Linked DNA regions of Homo sapiens: all the other regions are linked to region 1. Evidence: fine-mapped expression QTL. A gene starts in region 1. Each other region holds a variant in brackets. All regions are shown on one strand. Distances are from middle to middle.

Region 1 (4,237 bases):
GGGCAACAAGAGTGAAACTCTGTCTCCAAAAAAAAAAAAAAAAAAAAAAAATAGTAGAATGGGGGTTGGGTTGCCAGGGGCTGAGGGGGAGTGGGGAACAGAGAGTTGCTGTTCAATGGGTATAGAGTTTCAGTCACACAGATAAAAATGTCCGGAGGTCTTCTGCACAACATTGTGGTTATAGTTAACAATACTGTAGCGTGCACTTAAAAATTTAAGAGGAGCCGGGGCAGTGGCTCACGCCTGTAATCCCAGCACTCCGGGAGGCCAAGGCAGGCGGATCACAAGGTCAGGAGTTCGAGACCAGCCTGACCAACACAGTGAAACCCCATCTCTACTAATAATACAAAAAATTAGCTGGGCATGGTGGTGGGCGCCCAGTAGCTATTACAGTAGCTAGCTGTAATCCTAGCTACTTGGGAGGCTGAGGCAGGAGAATCGCTTGAACCCAGGAGATGGAGGTTGCAGTGAGCCGAGATCCCACCACTGCACACCAGCCCAGGTGACAATGCAAGACTCTGTCTCAAAAAAATAAAATAAAATAAAATAAATACACACACATAAAATATATTACATATATATTATACATACATACATACATACATATGTATTAGCTGGGTGTGGTGGCGCATGCCTGTAGTCCTAGCTACTCAAGAGGCTGAGGCAGGAGGACTGCTTGAGCCTAGAAGGTCAAGGTTACAATGAGCTATGATTGCATCATTACACTTCAGTCTGGGTGACAGAGCAAGACAATATCTCCAAAAAAAAAAAAATACTTCTTCAATTTAAATAGCTTTAGTTTTGTGGGAAAAACCAAGAACCACAGTGTGCCTGTCTCTATTTCTTGCTCTTGTTCCCTTTTATTCCCTCCTGAATTTCTCACCACACCAGGCCTTTTTGTTCTGGGACTCTTCCTCCTCTACCCTCCCCACTCCCTCCCCTGCCTCCCCCAAGCTCACAGCATTTCACACAGTTCCAGAAAAGTGCTTCTCTCCCTGACTGCCACCTGGCCCTGCTGTCTTCCCACAGGGCTGTGGGCTCCGGCAGCAGAGACCTTTTCCTACTCCCTGTGCCCCTGCATCTAAACAGACCCAGCATAGGAGAGGGGCCTGGTGAAGATGGCTGGTAGGAAGGCACTAGACTCGGGCTTTGAGAGCCAGAAGGCCTCAGGGAGTGAAGAATATGGGACTGGCAGGATCTAGGGGCTGAAATGAGTGGCCATAAAAGAAGCCCCCTCAAGACCCAAGACTCCTTGGTAGTAAGGGCTGGGCATCTCTCTGTGTCCCACCTCACACCCTGGGGCGGGTGAGGAGAGGAAGTGGAGGGGTTGCAGGGTTGGGGGAACAAGCGACAAGCCCGCCCTCCTGAGGAGCCCCAGGGCTGGTACAAACGGCAGGAAGAGGCTGAGCTGGGCCCCTGGAGCCACAGAGGCAGGAGGGAGTGAAGAGGCCCTGTGGCTGCCATGGGGGACAGTCCAGCAGCCTCCTCCTGCTCCCCTCAAGACTGGCCGGAGGTGTCTCAGCCCCCGTAGCCAACCACAGAGAGAGCACAGGGCGGAAGTGGCTGGCGCCTCAGCCATAGCTGCCGGAGATGGGCTCAACGGCCACACGGTCCCCACATTCGGGGAGCCTCACCGCAGCCCCGTGGGCACAGAGACCCAGGTGGAGCTCCAAGGGACACATGAGGCACAGGGAGTCTAGGGCAGCAGCTTCAAAACCACACACTGGTCTTTCTGCTGGCTTTTTTGGTCACCATCCCCTGCTTAAAACCCCAGGGTCACCCCACACTTTCAGCACAGACAGGCTGCATTCCACCCACCTGCAGGCTCCTCTGCCCGGCATTCATCTGTGCCACCTGCCCCGGCCATTTGGCTCCGACTGCAATGACACGTTTGTCTGGGAGATTCTTCAAGGGCACATAAAACATATCTGCCTTTGCTCACTGTGATGTCTCCGACGCAAAGCAGAGAGCCCGCCAGCGTAGCCACTCAGAGCTGAGTGGTGGTGGAATGAGTGAAAAGGCTGCAGCTGGAAGGGCTGGGAGGCGGGGGGCAGAGTGGGGGCAGCCAAGGGTTTTGGGGATCACACAGGCTTGGGAAGAAAAGTCAGCTCAGACCCACTGGCTATGTGACCTGGCCCTGCAGGTCCAACTGTCAATGGGTCTAACCCCGCCCACCTCAATGATCTGTGAGAGCTGAGCGGGGGAGACACTGTTCAGAAAAGACTGGGTCCCTGAAACTGTTGTTGTCGTTTAATCCAGCCATTTTTTTTAAGTTTGTTTAAGAGACAGGGGTCTCCCTATATTTCCCAGGCTAGTCTTGAACTCCTGAGCTCAAGCAATCCTCCCACCCTGGCCTCCCAAAGTGCTGGGATTACAGGCGTGAGCCACCGTGAGCTTGGCCCCAGCTCTTTCATTTATGGACAGGACATTTCAGGAGAGGGATCCATCCAGTCTCATCTTGGTGTTTAATATTTAAATGCACCAAAAATGGGGTGCCAATTGGTGCCAACTTTTTGGAAAGAGACTTTGATGTAATCTGCCTAAAAGTAAAATGCTCATGTTCAGCAACTCAGCCCTTCAGCTTCTAGGAATTTTGTTCTGCAGGGAAAAAAAAATGCTGTATTTGTATTATTAATATTGTTACTGGGTGGCAGGGGGAGGAAAGTATTCAGTGTTTTCAGAACCACCCACCAGGAGGCGCTTTTGCATCAGGGGCCCAATCAGGTTAGCCCAGAGCACCTGGATTTAAGTAGCAAAAACAAATGACAATCTCTAGCCCAATGTCTCAAGAACATTCCAGTCTTTTACTTCATCTCACCCTCGAAACTTCCTTTTTTTTTTTTTAGACAGAGTCTCACTCTGTCACCACGGCTGGAGTGCAGTGGTGCAATCACAGCTCACTGCAGCGTCGACCTCCCAGACTCAAGCAATCCTCCCACCTCAGCTTCCTAGGTAGCTGGGACTAGGTGCACATCACCATGCCTAGCTAATTTTTGTATTATTATTTTTTTTTTTGTAGAGATAGGGATCTTGCCATTTTGCCTAGGCTGGTCTTGAACTCCTGGGCTCAAGCAATCCTCCTGCCTCGGGCCTCCCAGTTCTGGGATTACAGGAGTGAGCCACTGCGCCTGGCCATGACCAAAACTTTTATTAGAGACAGTATCTACTTGCTTGGTGCCCTCTCTGCCCTTCCTCCTAAAGAATCCCCCTTCAAAAGGAAAAAAAGGCCATTCAAATTTGAGAGAGACTCAGGGGTCCAGAGTAAACTAAGTTAAATGAAATCAAACCTGGACCGTGGGCTTCAAGTGTGTTATTAACCCCCTCCCTCCTGTCCTGCTGCATCCTTGGCTCTGCCCTTTCACTTACGTCCACGTCTCTAAACCCAGCCGTTCTTCCTTCTCCCTTGGGTCTCTGTGTCTTCTGTCTGCCTCAGGTGTCCTTCCACACGCTACCCACCCGCCTAGGGAATACTCCTTCTGAGTTCCTGGGCAAACCACCCAGTTCTCCTCCTGAACCCTCCCCCAAAAGGCTCCCTGCACGTTCCATCTCATGAGGGCCAGGCTGTGCCCAGGTGAGGACACTCATCACCTCCACTTTTCCCATCACACTGGTGTGTGGAGCGCCCACCCCACCTGGGATGTAGAGGGATGCTCCTTGCCCAGCAGTGCTTCTCCCTGGGCCTCAGTTTCCCAGTCTAGGGTACCCCCACACCTCTCTCAGCTTGGGCGTGCTGTACTTTACCCCATGTCAGCAGTTCTCATTAAGCTAGTCTTTAAAGGAGGAAAAAATAATTTTAAAAAATCTTCCTTTGTTCTGGCCTCCGGTCTATTTACAATGACAGTTCATGAGGAACTGGGTTCTGAGCGAAAACAAACAAAATGCCTCCATTTTAGAAGGGGTAAGGTCTGGAGGGGAAAGAGGGAGATAGGAAAGAACCTGTGGTGGCCTATCCTCTCCCCGTGACAGGAAGGCCTTTGAACAACACAATTCTGATTGTGCTGTTGCTACCTCATTTCAAATCCTTCCCCCTGCCCCACCCTCCAGAAGCAGCACCTGGCATGGTAGGCAAAGCCCCATCAGCTCTGGCCTGCACGACTGGCGCTCCAGCTTTGGCTGTCCTCCCGCAGCCCTGGGATCCCTAAGCCTAGAATACGCCACGCCCATTCCCCCACCTTCCCCACCAGCCGAATTCCCCTTCCGCTGGGGAGACTCAGGTTGGGGGTCAATCTTCAAGAAG
Region 2 (4,237 bases), 41 kb before region 1:
AGGAGTTTGAGGCCAGCCTGGACAACACGGTGAGACCCCCCATCTCTACAAAAAAAAAAAAATACAAAAATTAGCCAGGCCTGGTGGTGTGTGCCTGTAGTCCCAGCTACCTGGAGGCTGTGGTAAAAAGATTACTTGGGCCTGGGAAAGCAAGGGTGCAGTGAGCCGAGATCACACCACTGCACTCCAGCCTGGGGAACAGAGTGAGACCCTGTTTGAAAAAAAGAAAAGAGGAAAGGAAGGAAGGAAGGGAGGAAGGAAGGGAGGAAGGGAGGGAGGGGAAAAAAAAATAGCCCGGGTGCGGTGGCTCACACCTGTAATCCCAGCACTTTGGGAGGCCAAGGCAGAAGGATCATTTGAGCTCAGGAGTTCATGACCAGCCTGGCCAACATGGTGAAACCCCGCCTCTACTAAAAATACAAAAATTAGCTGGGTGTGGTGGTGTGCACCTGTAATCCCAGCGACTTGGGAGGCTGAGGCATGAGAATCGCTTGAACCTGGGAGGCAGGGGTTGCAGTGAGCCAAGATTGAGCCACTGCACTCCAGCCTGGGCAACAGAATGAGTCTCTATCTAAAAAAAAAAAAAAAAAAAAAAAAAGAAAAAAAGAAAAAGAAAAAGAAAGCATCTTGCAGAACAAAACATACAGAATGTTACTACTCACGTGAGACGCATACCTAAACACAATATGCACATCTAAACAGATATAAATATAGATAGTCTAGGTATAGGTGTTGGTACAGGCACGACACAGGCATAGGTAGTGGCATAGGTATAGTTACAGATATTGGTATAGGTATTGGTATAGGCATGGCATAGGTATAGGTATATACACTGACCAGCTGACAACAATGGTTTAAACAGAATGGGGCTCAGGAGGTAAAGAGGAATTACATGGCCTTTTATTCACTACATTTTATTAATGTTTGAGATTTTACAATGAGAATATTTTCCTGAAATATTCGTCTGATGCTAAAAATTAAAGAAGAAAAGCAGCTGGCCACATGGCTGGGAGCCTGAAGCAGGGCTCAGTCTGGGCGCTCATAAGAGGCAGGGTCTGTGGGGGTCAGGCCTGTTTGGTAGTCTCAAGCTACATCTGGAGACTCTTCCTAAATCCACTGTGGCTCCCTCTCCCCAAGGCCAGAGCCAGAGAGAGCTGGTTTCCACAGCAGCAGTAGCATACGCAGGTCCCTGCAATCTGGAGGTATGTGACACCGGGACATTTACCCTGTGCGGTGGGCCCACCTCTGCCACCTCTGCTCCTTGAGGCAGGGCAGGACTTCAGAATTGGCCAGAGGGCGACCTGAGACATGCAGGCAGAGAAGGGAGCCAGTGACCTCTAGGACCCCCAGGGCTTAGGCAGGATGCCGCGTGGAACCCAGAGCAGTCTCCCCAGCCTGGGCTTGCATTTGAGCCTCACAAATACCGCACTGGGGGAGGCAACAGCCCGTCTGTGCCCCTGCACTCCCAGCAGTCAGCAAGGTCAGGAGTGGGAGAGGGGAGAAGGCCTTTCATGGAGCACTCCTTAGATGCTGGGCCCTGAGCTAGACACATTTCCTACTCCCTAACTTTGGCCTTTAAATCTCGTTCAGTGAGTTCTTTTTGACACATGGAAGCTTGGGAAGTTTTTCGGCCAGCTACTGAAAACAAAGGGGTAAAATAATTCAAACAAAGCAAAGGGATGTACAGTGAAAAACAAGTCTTTTCTCCTCAGCCCCCAGTCCCCGCCCGGGAGAACCCATGTGCGCACTGGAGCACATGCACGTGTGTTCCTGCCCCCTCCTTGGTACTAACAGAAGCGCTCCCCACAAAGTGCGCTGTATCTGGCCTTTTTCACAAAAAAAACATGTATCTCAGAGCTTCTTCCACAGCAGTACACGGGACCGCCTCGTTCTTTTTCATGCCTAGAATTCCATGGCATGCAAAAGTCTTTAGTATTCATGTAACCAGATCTAGAATTCTGGCTCCATGGTTTTCTGCCTTTTCCATAGGCTTATTTCTGTTCTGCACAACAGCCCTGGGAGGCAGGTGGTCCCTGTGTTAGAGATGAGGAAACCAGGGTGACGGGATTAGTCTGTTCTCACGCTGCTGTGAAGAAATGCCCGAGACTGGGGTAATTTATAAAGAAAAGAGGTTTAATTGACTCACAGTTCTGCGTGGCTGGGGAGGCCTCAGGAAACTTACAATCATGGTGGAAGGCAGCTCTTCACAGGGCGGCAGGAGGGAGAGTGATACTGAGCAAAGGGGGAAGCTGCTTATAAAACCATCAGATCTCGTGAGAACTCACTCACTATCATGAGAACAGCATGGGGGAAACTGCCACCATTATTCAATTATCTCTACTTGGTCCTGCTCTTGACACCTAGGGATTATTAAAATTCAAGGTGAGATTTGGTGGGGACACAGAG[T/C]CAAACTATATCAGTGACTCACCATCCCAGTTTGCCTGGGACTGTGCCAGGAAAACCCTCAGTTTTGGACAAACCAGGATGGTTGGTCACCCTAAAGGTAAACTGAGGCTTGGAGGGTAAGGACATTCTCCAAGATCTTGTGGTTGATCCGTGGAGGCCTGGGATGGCCACTGAAGTCCACCTGATGGTGATGATACTCTAGGAGGACAATGATCATATAGTAAGTGTCTCCTCTGTGCCTGCCCCTTCTTCAGCCCTCATAACAGCCCCAGGAGGCAGACAACGAGGCACAGATAGAACTTGTGACAGGCGAACTGGGGTCAGATCTCAGCAGCAGGGCTTGGCTGTGTGACCACTGTGGTCAGCTCCTTCTCAGCCTCCTGTCCTGGGCCCACAGCAGACATACAACAAATGTTTGTTGAGGGGAAAAAAAGGCATGAATGAAGTATTATTATCCTCATTTTATGGGAAAAACTGAGGCACAAAGAAGCTGTCCCTGGCACAGGGTCACAATTTGAACCTGGACAGGGGCTCCAGAGCCCATGACACGTTTCCCTCTTGTAGAAGGTCCTTGTCTGTAACCTGGTGGTGCCTCCTGCCTCTGACTCCTCCGGCCAGTCGCCCTGACAGCCCCCTCACCGCGTTGCACTACCTGGTCCCCTGGTCCCAGCCTCCTTTCATGGAAGGAGGTCTTGCCGTCTGCCTCCCTACTCCTGACTTGGGGCCCCTGCTCTGAACCTTCCACCCCGTCCGCCTGGACTGGATGCTTCTCCCGGATCCTGATGCCTGAGCTTCAGCTTCCCCACTCCGGACTGTTTCATGCGTTCATTCATGTGTCCAACTCTTCACTCCTTTCCTCAACAAACATTGACTGAAATTGAAATGAGCCAGTTCTACCCCGGTGTTGGGAATTCCGAGATGAATCCAGCCTGAGCTTTGTCCTTGGGGGACACAGAAAACAACAAAGAAATGGCACTTGTTACCCAGAGACCCAGAGAGATGCAGCTCTGATGGAGATGGCGCAGGCACGGGCTGCTGGGGCTTGAGTTCAGGGGTTGGGGGGAGGTTCCTAGCCTGGGGGCTCTGGAAAAGCTTCCTGGAGAAGGTTATGCTGGAGTCTGGAAAGATAAGAAAGAATTAGCAAGACAGGCATTGGGAGGGGAGGCGAGAGGTACTGTGACATCATGGACAAAGCGGTGGAAGACAGCGTGAGACATTCAAGAAGTGCACGTTGTTCCTTACAGCTGGGTCCAAGCTGTCCTCAGGTGTGGACGCGTGGCTCTAGGAAGCCCAGCACCCTCCCGAGTACCTAGCCAGCTCCGGGCCCAGCAGGGCTTCCGAGAATTTCATGTCCAGAAATTTATCAGAAAAAAACACAACAAAACAATCAGCAATGTGGACATGAAGTTACGCAGGACGGAGGATGTTTACTGCGGTGTTTTTATCACAGAAAACGAGTGAAACAGCCTCTGTGCCCAGCCACGAGAAGGGGCCACACTTGTCAAAGGGCCACCACCGGCTGGAGTCATCCAAAAGGCTGAGGAGTCAGATTTCAGAGACTACTTAAAGGCACCAGACAATGCATCTGATGTAACTGTAGGTAAAAGACAGCAAGAGGCAAACTATTTTTTATTAGGAGACCTACATATGCATATATATATATATATGAAATGATATTAGGAAGAAATGTGTCAAATGCTTCACAGTGGTTATCTCTGGTGATGGACTAACCTGGGGGTTGTAGTTCCTTTTTAAAAATAATTTCAGCCAGACGCGGTCTCTCACACATGTAATCCCAACACTTTGGGAGGCCAAGGTGGGCGGATCACTT
Region 3 (4,237 bases), 48 kb before region 1:
TTTCTGCGGTCCCAGCAACTTTTGGTACGGATCTAGGGCAGTCTGACCCCTGCTGGACCCCTCACAAATGCCGGGTCCCGTATGCACACTTGAAGGTCGCTGCCACCACGAGCAAGGCCTTCTGCCCTTGGCCTGTTAGGGGCCTTGGAGACTCTGGAGAAAACCCCCAGTGGCACCACTGGGCCCAAGAGCCACCAGCAGCCAGCGCCATTGTCGCCACTGTGGGTTAAGAACTACCCTCCCTCTACTGTGGGTTAAGAACTACCCTCCCTCTCCCACTTACCTTTTAAAAAATGCCTATAATTTTACAAAGGAGAAAATGTGAAGTCTTTTTTTTTTTTGAGACCGAGTCTTCCTCTCTCCCCTAGGCTGGAGGGCAGTTTGGACGATCTTAGCTCACTACACCCCCACCTCCCGGGTTCAAGCGATTCTCCTGCCTCAGCCTCCTGGGTACCTGGGATTACAGGCACCCGCCACCATGCTCGACCAGAAAATGTGGTCTTTTACATATCAAGGAAATAGTAACTGGCTGGAAAGCAGGAAAGAGCATCAACTCCCTATTAGACTCATCGGAGCCGAACTCCCTGTTAGACTTATCGGACCCGAACTCTGATCTTGATCTGCACTTCAACCAGTGGCCTCAGCCCACTCCCCTGGTCTTGCATTTGTCTCACTGTCTCCCCTAAAGACATCCCTTCCTCCCCTTCACCAAGCATGTCCCCCTTGGGGTCAGCCCTCGCCTGGACTATTGCAGTAGCCTCCAGGCTAGTCTCAGCTACCCTGTACACCCTCCAAATAGGCCACAGAGTCTTTGTCTCAAACACAGGCCAGACCTCCTGCCCTTACTCAAAACCCTACCATGGGCCTCTGGTGGCCCCAGGATTAGGTCTTGACACCCTAGTCTGGCCTTCAGGATCCTTCCTGTTCCAGCTTGGCCTGTCTCTCCAACCCACCCCTTACCACCCCCTGGGTCATTAAGAGCATAGGCTTTGTAGTTGCTGTGTGACCTTGGGCAAGTTACTTAACTTATCTGAACCTTGATTTCTCATCCATGAAAGTGAAATAGGTCTCTGCCACAAGGGGAGCAGGGTTTCAATTGTGCGATTCCAATAATCTCATGTGTGTAGCACTGGACTAGGATATACAGTGGGTGCTCAATAAATGTAGCTATCCTTATTTGTCACTACCCCATGAAACGACTAAAAATCTCCCACAGCATACTCTGCGGAGCCTATGCAGATGCTGCGTCCTCTGCCTCGGCAGCCTAGTGAACTCCTATTAATCCTTCAACACCCCTCTCAGGCAATGCCCTGACTGGCCTGGTGTCAGCTGTCCTTTCTCAGAACCCTCCTCCATATTGGCCAGATTGCTGCACTAGAATTCTTCCCTTTACTTGTCAGTCTTCCACCATATGACTGTGGGTTCCTAGGGGCAGTGGCTATAAATGACAAAACTGAGCCAGCCAGGGAGGGCTGGGGTGATGAGGGAAGGGGTATGAGACAGGAAGGAGGGAAAGGTGGAGGGAGAGAGGCTCTGTGGTTGGCCAAGGCAGAATAAAGCTTTCATTCAATCATTTGTTCATTCACCCATTCATTCAACACATGCATACTGACCTACTCTATTTAAAGCCCCTTGCTAGCTTTCCCCAGCTTCTAGAATCACTCCAAAATCTCTCGGCCAGGTGCAGTCAAGTATTTTGGGAGGTCGAGGTGGGAGGATCGCTTGAGTCCGGGAGTTCGAGACCAGCCTGAGCAACATGGCAAAACCCCATTTCAAAAAAAAATACAAAAATTAGCCAGGTGTGGTGGCGCACACCTGTAGTCCCAGCTATCTGAGAGGCTGAGGCGGGAGGATCACTTGAGCCCAGAAAGTTGAGGTTGCAGTGAGCCGAGATCGTGCCACTGCACTGCAGCCTAAGTGACAGAGGAAGACTGTCTCAAAAACAACCCTGTCCTCCATGGGTGGCCCTCGAAGCCCCAGGAACCCAGTCCTCCCCAGTGGACCGCTCCACCCTCAGTCTCCCTGTCCCTTTCTGTCCCTCCCTGTGCTCCAGGACTCTGGCTCCCCTTTGGTTCCTCAAGCAAGACCACCTTCTAGAACGCCCTTCTTCTGACCTTTCCAGGACGACCCCCAGGACAGGCCCCTATCACTCTGTATAAACAGGGTCTCACCCCCACAGCGCGGGTTCCGCCTCAGTCCTGTGTCTCCTACCTCATTCTCACCCAGCCCACGCCCAGACGCACTTGTGGGATCAGGGGATTAACACCCACCTTCTCAGTAGGCTGCGAGCTTCCCACTTCCCAGCATGCCTGTGGTGACTAGCGCCCACCCGGAGCGCCCCAGGAGACCAGAGCCAAAAGGGACCTTGGTGAGCATCGAGGTCCGCCCCCACGTGTTGTAACAACAATAATAAAAAATAATATTTCCAACAACAACAGCAGCAGCTAACACTGCCCACGTGCCAGGCGTTTCGCCTTCCGTGCAGTTTCCTCGAATCCACGCAACAACCCCATACAGAGAGCTCCA[G/A]TTCCATCCCCATCTTACAGAGGAGAAAACTGAAGCTGGGCAAGGCTGGCCAGGCCCCTGGGTTGCAGGCCCTGCACTCTTCGGTCACCACTAGGCTGTGCTGCCAGATGACCATGGTGGCAACACTGGACGGGGTTGGGGCTCCACAGACTTGAGCTCTGTGATCCCAAACAAGTCCTAGACCTTTCTGGCCTCAGTCTCCCCATCTGGAAAATGGAGCTAACCACAGTCTCTTCATCAGACTGAATGTTCACAGGAGGGAGGGACTGTCAGGGCTTCCAAGTACAGAGAGAGGGGACGGGTACCATGAGGGCAGGATTATGGGGGTCCCCAGGGCCTCCCCCACAGGTAAAGCCCCACCCAAAGCCAGTTCTGCCCAAGGCCTGCTCCAAGAGGACCCCTGCAAGGCAGGGTGAGTGGAGTCCTCCCTGGGGAGTGCCCAGTGCCCACACACTCCCTTCTAGAGAAAGAAGACAGCACTGTGCACAATGAGACCAGGGGACCCGGGGTGTGTGGGGGCCACCAGGTGGGGCACAGCACACCCTCCACTGAACCCTGAGCCATGGGGACCCTGAGCGCTCCCAGCCCTCCTGACACCTGCTTCCCCTTGCCACATGGGCCCTGGCAGTGGGAATGGGGCGTCTGCCGGAGCCTCTCCTGGGCTGTGCCAACCTCCCTATGCCCAGACAAAGCCCCCCTCCCCCGGCCTCCGGGGAAGGGGTGGGCCAGTGAGGGAGCTGACAAAGGGAGCCAGTGGGGCTGTGCCTGGGGCTCGTGCCACCCCACTCCCCGACCTGCCCACAGTGCCCACATCCCCCTCCTGCCACTTGGCCGGCTGGGGCGCCCGGCACCGTTGCTATGGCGGCAGCTCTGGGGAAGCTGCAGCTGGGTAATTATTGCGAACATCCATCCTGCCTCCAGCCCGCCCCAAGAGCCGGGCAGCGAGCAGCGGGGCCAGGGCAGCCCCTCCTCACCCGCCGGGCAGCCGCACCCTGGCCTGGCACGATGCCTGCCCGAGGTACAGTGGGGAGGACAGCCATGCAGGCTGCTGCAGCAGACAGGAGCCAGCCCAGGGGCTGGCCAGGAAACCCCCACTTTCGCCCTGGCCCCCCAGCCCTGGGCCACCCTTGGAGCTGACCGGCCGGCCCAGAACTTATTTTTTCCAGCTATAATACACACACCAAACCAGCCAGAGAACCTCCTTTGTTCAAACAGAATCCTTCCTCTGCCGTTTTGGGGGCAGTGGAAGCCAAAGCAGCCAGAATGGGCTCTGGCCTGTCACCTAGGGACGGTCCCCTCGATGAGGCGGTTCCCCTGGGGCCCCACTGTGGGCCCCGCCACCTCCTCAGCCTCAGAAGCTCGCCTTGGCCCTGGTGTCTAAATATAGCTCTGCCGGGCCAAGCCTGAGGTCTCACACTCCCAACTGCCCCGGGTGGCCGGGGGAGGAGATTCATTCAGGCCTCGAGAGAGCATTTCAGGAGCCACTTAGGGCTGAGCTCAGGGCCCCCACTGTGACGCAGGTGTGCCTCTGCCTGTGGGGCTTGCGGACCCCCTCAGGAGACACACAGATATGATTTTGAGTAGCTAACTCGATCGAGAAAACACAGACCAGGACTCCCCTCGCCCAGCCTGGAAGCAGGATGCGTCAGGGCGGGAGGGAAAGGAAGGGGTCTAGGCTGGGGAGGGGAGGCACCAAGGGGAGAGAGAGGAA

Which allele goes with the higher level. Positions count from the first base shown, and alleles are read on the strand shown. Sizes are in standard deviations (SD) of each study's normalised expression.
As copies of T replace C in region 2, the expression in ovary of the gene that starts at base 2,128 in region 1 goes down (moderate effect, 0.51 SD a copy in GTEx).
For the expression in testis of the gene that starts at base 2,128 in region 1, allele G in region 3 goes with a lower level than allele A (small effect, 0.39 SD a copy in GTEx).

What was found.
Region 2: its variant is fine-mapped to the expression of C20orf203 in ovary (GTEx, PIP 0.97).
Region 3: its variant is fine-mapped to the expression of C20orf203 in testis (GTEx, PIP above 0.99).

Annotation. Positions count from the first base shown.
Region 1 is chr20:32,671,814-32,676,050 of GRCh38, forward strand. It overlaps C20orf203 (chromosome 20 open reading frame 203), which reads right to left and starts at 2,128. Exons shown (of 6, transcript NM_182584.4): 1 at 1,819-2,128. RefSeq lists enhancers at 376-875, 2,826-2,895, 3,747-4,237.
Region 2 is chr20:32,630,747-32,634,983 of GRCh38, forward strand. C20orf203 (chromosome 20 open reading frame 203) reads right to left here. Exons shown (of 6, transcript NM_182584.4): 6 at 879-3,524. Among named protein-coding and RNA genes, the nearest start is that of C20orf203, 41 kb to the right of the region's middle. The variant T/C (reference allele first, on the strand shown) is at 2,407.
Region 3 is chr20:32,623,906-32,628,142 of GRCh38, forward strand. No RefSeq gene overlaps it. Among named protein-coding and RNA genes, the nearest start is that of NOL4L-DT, 39 kb to the left of the region's middle. RefSeq lists a silencer at 3,418-3,487. The variant G/A (reference allele first, on the strand shown) is at 2,527.